Regions from separate parts of the Homo sapiens genome. Here region 2 is linked to region 1. Evidence: fine-mapped expression QTL. A gene starts in region 1. The other region holds a variant in brackets. All regions are shown on one strand. Distances are between the middles of the regions.

The links.
Region 2: its variant is fine-mapped to the expression of PCNX1 in whole blood (TOPMed, PIP 0.99).

What each region holds. Positions count from the first base shown.
Region 1 is chr14:70,905,840-70,908,749 of GRCh38, forward strand. It overlaps PCNX1 (pecanex 1), which reads left to right and starts at 1,620. Exons shown (of 36, transcript NM_014982.3): 1 at 1,620-2,164. The coding sequence starts at 2,012. RefSeq lists silencers at 1,523-1,712, 1,933-2,272, 2,433-2,772.
Region 2 is chr14:70,881,510-70,884,419 of GRCh38, forward strand. No RefSeq gene overlaps it. Among named protein-coding and RNA genes, the nearest start is that of PCNX1, 24 kb to the right of the region's middle. The variant G/T (reference allele first, on the strand shown) is at 1,751.

The DNA.
Region 1 (2,910 bases):
ACACCAGCTTCAAGGCCACTATTTTAATTGTAAAATTGCATTATTTAATCATAATTTTGCTTTTAGATATACAAATATATTTTAAAGTATATTTTGTCCAGTGTTTACTCACAGCTCTCAATTTCAAGGTATCTTACTGGAACTCAGTGGCTTTGTGGTTATAAGGACATAAACAAATCAAGGCTAGGGATGGTGTGGTGTTCTACAGTGGTAAGCTACATTAGAATCCTCCGGAGGACTTGTTAAAACAGATTGCTGGGTACCACCCCACAGAGTGTCTATAGAATGATGCCCTAAGAATTTGCACTTTGACGAAAACTGGTCATGTATTTAAGCTGGTCACAGATAACCAGAAGGTGCTGAACTGTTCTTAATCAATTCAAACTTTTACCTGAAATGGATAATAAGGTGGAGAGCCTTGAGAAATGAACTTCCAAAGTTCAGTGCATGCAGTTAGCATGACTGCTGGTTTTAGAGTTCTCAACCACTTATTGCTTATGAGCAATAAGTGGCCATAAGCATTTGGCCAATCACTTACTTGAGTTTACAGGTTTTCTCATCCATAAAATAACAATAGCTGCTATGCTGCCCTCAAAGGGTTGTCCTGAGGTCTGAATGGAATGGGTGTGATAGTGTCTGAGCAACTATAAAGTGGTATGGCACTGGGAGGTATTGTAACGGTTTTTCATTACTCTTCTTAAAATATCACCAGTTTCCTTTGGCTCTTGTTTCCCTCATTAATTATAGCAACTGTAATCTGGGAATACACAGTACTTTTATTGCCATAAAAGCCAAACTTCAATAAACTCAAATTTCAAACTTTTCTATAAAATTTTATTCAGTGAGATCAGACACGCCTTATAAACATTACACAGAGCCAAGAATGATTCCGTTTTTACAGCTATAAAAAGAGATCTACAAGACCCTATTGTAATTTGGGGTGGCGTCACGGTTAATCTTTTTCAACCCTGTTTAGATTGGCCCATTAATAAAAATGGCTGCTAGTTACAGCACATTTAAAAATACAATCACCGCGTACAAATGGTAACCTGTCCACTCCATACTTCCATGTCCTGTGCCGCTTCTATTAACTTGTCTTTGGAAGTAGTAAATTCTCCCAGTCTGGACGTGGCTATTTTTTCTCACACACGGGCCAACACAGTTCTTGCTCAACTTGGGTGCGTTTATGACTTTTCAACAGTGTCATCAGCCGTACCTAACTCTTCCAGGCCTTCAGTATCTCAGGTGTTAGCTTCAGTTGTTCCTAGGTCTTTCACAAATATCATAAATGACAGGCAGGACGCTTTTCTGGAGTCAAGATCTGTTAGTTTCGGAGTCAGAAAGACCCCGTTTAGAGACTCGTAGGCGAACTTGCCAGGGGGCCTACCAGGGGCAGAATGGGGTCCTCCGGACCAGCCAGCCGCGTCTCAGCCACCTCCGCAGCCCCCGGGGCCCTGAACCCCGGCCGCGTTGACGCGCGCTTCTCCCGGACGTCGGCAGGAGGCGCCCGCGGCGGACCAGGCGCGGCGCGCACCGTAGCCGGCCCAGGGGGCGGAGGGAGCGGAGAGGAGGAGCTGGAGGGGGCGCGGCTTCCTCTCGGTCGCTCCCTGGCGCCGGGCCTCTTTCTCTGCCTGGCCCAGGGCTGGCGGCCGGCGGGGGTCGCGGCGGCGGCAGTGGGGGCGCTGGCGGGCCGCGGGTGGCGGGGGCCGGGCCGCGGCTCCGGGTGTTAGGAGACAAGATGGCGGCGGCTCTCAGAAGGCCGGTCTCCTCCTCTCCGCCGTCCTCCGCCCCGCCGCTCGCCGCCTCCTCCTCTCGGGTCTCCTCCTCCTCGTTTGCTGCCTCCTCCTCCTCCTGCAGCAGCACCAGCGACCGCCGAAGCGCCGGCTCGCTCACCCGGAGCTCCGGAGGTGGATAGACGGGGCAGCTGCAGGCTCCGGCGACCGAGGCCGAGCTGGGGCCGGGGCGGGGACGGCGGCGGCGGCGGCGGCGACGGCGGCGGCGCCGGGTGGGGATGGGGTCGCAGACGCTGCAGATCCTCCGACAGGGGGTGTGGGCCGCGCTCAGCGGGGGCTGGTACTACGACCCGCACCAGGCCACCTTCGTGAACGCGCTGCACCTCTACCTGTGGCTCTTTCTGCTGGGCCTGCCCTTCACCCTCTACATGGTGAGTGTGGGGGCGGGGAGCGGGTGGCTCCTTCCCCGCGAGCCGGTGGGGAGATGCTGGGGTCGCGCCCTCTTCCTCTTCCACGGGGTCTCGTCCCCCGGGGGCCGCCACCCTCTCGGTGTGAGGCTCCCCGCCCCCACTGCGTGCTCCCACTCCTCTCTTCGGGGCTTTCCTGGTTTCGGAGGTGACACGAGCAACGAGCCCACGGCAACCCGCGCCGGCCGCCCCCGCCCGCTCACTGGGAAGCGGCAGCGTCCTAGGCCCCTTCTCGGGGTTCCCTCCTGCGGCCACTCGGCTAGGCCGTCCCCGCCGGGGCCCCCCGCCCGTGGGGCTGTGTGGCAGGCGCCGAGCGCTCTGCGGCTTTAGGGGACGCCGCATCCATCCTTGGCACGCTGGGTTCCTCGGGCGCCCGGCATCCGGCACTGCCCGCCCCCGCCGCGGCCCTCGTCCGGGGCTCCCGGGAGAGGCCGCCCGCCGCCTCGCCGCTAATCCGCGTGCGGAGCCCCGGGAGCGCGGGGGACCGTGCGGCTCTGCTCCGAGTGTGTGTGGGGGTCGTCCGGGCTCGTCCTCCAGGGGTCCTGGGTGGTGGCTGAAAACCCGGCTCGGAACCCTCCTGCCTCTAAAAAACCGTTGTTGTGCTTCGCAGCGGTTCTTCTCTGTTCGGCCCCGTGGCCGGTGGCCGTGGTGCTTCCTGGCCTCCCTGGGGGGAGGGAGCGGGGAGATAACGGGGAATCTGGCTGGCATTT
Region 2 (2,910 bases), 24 kb before region 1:
CCCATATGAGATACTTCTAGCAATTGAGTCTAGTCTAGAGGAACAGGCAGTTATTCTCTAAATGGTCTCTAAGAAGAGCTGGGGGCCTTAAAAACAAGGGACGTAGCAGTAATCTTTTTTATAGGCTGTGAATTGCTGTGGAACCTATAGCTTCAAACCTATTTGTTTTCCATGAACTCTATAATGATGTCATGGTCTATGCCTTCTTCATGTACAAACATCATACAGTTAACCCACCACCATGATAGCATGTACTTTCTGTTGTCGTGTTGTTTCCTAGTAAGGTGATTGATTTGCATTGCTTCAACCGGGCTCCTCTGATTGATCATTTTCTAAACAATGGATGCATTTACAGATGGTTGCCAGGTTCAGCAGAGGAGGCTGTAGCCATCAAATAGATAAAGTAGGCTCACCACATTCTGGAATTGAAACCGTGATCTTGGTTACATCAGAAGGTGCTCTAACCAATTGAACAAACCAGGCCTCGATGAAGCAACTGAGAGCTGGGGGATTCTTATGCAGAACAGAGCATTCATACTTCCGCTTCCATATGTACCACATATGTGTTCCTCTCAACTGGTTTTGTACATTTCCATTGCCTTAAATGTATTCACATAGCACTCTTTAAATACTCGAAGTATAATGAAGAAAAGAGAAGGAACTGAAATGGTTCCATTCCATTTCTCACTAGGAAGTTGATTCTGTGCACTCTATTTCTGACTATTTTCTATCAGCCTATCACTGTGGGATGTAGGAGGGAGGAACAGGACACAAAATGTGGCATAATTAAAAAAAGATGAAGAAGAAAATTAAAATCATTAACCATTAGTAATCATTTTTAATGTGCATCATTTTTAAAATTCGAGAATAACCCAAGGAGGTAGGCATAATGTTTAGACATGATTTACCAGTGAAAAGAAGCTTAGAGAAATGAAGTAACGGCTGGAAAGTCACAGCTAGAACTCAAAGTGAGAATTCCCACCCAAGAAATCTAACTCCAGATTCTACACTCCTAATCTCCGCTATGTTGCTTTCCTGAAATGAGGAAAGAATAAGAAAGGAGAAAATTAGTGACAGGAAAGAGAGAGCTGAATAAGAGGGGACAAAGAAAGGAGGAAGGAAATCAAGCAGTTTCTACACTCTGGAAAATAACGGAGCAGAATTAACAGAAGAGAACTACTTTCCTCAATGCTCATTCTACTGTTAAAAAAAAAATAAGCCAGGCAGTGCAGCACACGCCTATAATCCCAGTGACTAAGGAGGCTGATGTAGGAGGATTGCTTGAGCCCAGGAGTTTGAAGCTAACCTGGGCAACAGAGCAAGACCTTGTCTCTAAAAAAAATTTTTTTTAAGTAGCTGCATTGTCTTGTTTTTCTAACTTTGTACAGTGCTTAGAGTAACACTATCTAAACAGCATGTGTTCCATAAACCCTGTTGACTAACCGCTGGATTTGCACAAGAAACACCGGAAGACTCTTAGGCAAGAGATATATTGTAAGATCCGTGACAATGAGATCTCTTGGATGACATGTTTTTCATTGTTTACTGCGTGTCTAAAATGAGAAGGTCCTAAGAGCCAACCTTTCATTGGAGTGGCCCCCATAAAACTGTCTGCTGTGTAAGGGGTGTTGGAGTGACTCTCCATCACAGGTTCTACTGCAGCTCTAGGGTGGGTCCTGAGTGATGTGAACCCCACCCCCATCCCCGTTGCTAGTGAATGGGTCTGGGGTAGGCAGGCCAAGGCCAATTG[G/T]GACCAATGAGTCATAAAGAGTTTTCTAAACACTTCCGGAAAATATGCTTTCTTACCCTTAAGAAAGAGTCACAGGAAGTTAGTAGGAGGTGAAAAGGGAAGCAATTAACCCAGCAACTACTGGAAGCCTTCCAAAACCCAGGGATCTTTCCCCAGAATGAAGTCAGCATTGGGGATAGCACAGCAGAGAGATGCAAAGAGCCACTGGATCCACCAGTCCTGAATCCTACCCAGCCTTTGACATCCTGCATTGGAGCCAATACATTTCTTTATGATAAAAGCTAGTTTGAGGTTGAGTCAGGATTTCTGTCCCATATTTTAAAGTATCCTACTGATGCAGCCTGGTAAACATAAAACATGGTAAACACATGTGGCCTGATTTTATTGGCAGCATGGTTAACTGGTTCAAGCTATGGTTCAAGCTATTCTTTCCCTTCTGTGATTATGACCATACGCTCTCATGAAAGGTGAAGCCTTTCTCCTGCCATGGCTACCTGGCTAAAAAAGCTCAGCCAGAGTCTCAATTCCTATAACCTCCTTCCCATCCATCCATTCATCCATCCATCTATCCATCCATCCATCCATCCATCCATCCATCCATCCAGCTGATGGATTAATAAATTTATATCAAGCACTTACTCTGAGCAAGGCATTTTGCTAGGCACTGTAAGGCCATCAAAAAGGAAAAAATAGGCCGGGCGCGGTGGCTCACGCTTATAATCCCACCACTTTGGGAGGCCGAGGTGGGTGGATCACCTGAGGTCAGGAGCTCGAGACAAGCCTGACCAATATGGTGAAACCCCGTCTCTACTAAAAATACAAAAATTAGCTGGGCTTGGTGCCGTGCACCTGTAGTCCCAGCTATTCGGGAGGCTGGGGCAGGAGAATTGCTTGAACCCAGGAGGCAGTGAGCCGAGATTGTGCCACTGCACTCCAGCCTGGCGACAGAGTGACACTCTGTCTCAAAAAAGAAAAAAGAAAAAAAAAATCAGATGCTCTCTGTTCTCAGAGACCTTATAGTGTAAAAGGGGAGAAAAAATATGTATACAATTAACTACGGCAAAATGTAGAAAACTGTTAGGTGTCACTAGATACAGTGCCACAGTAGATCAATGAAAGGAAGAGACCATTTCCAGCTGGGAAGGTTAGGGCCATTTTTT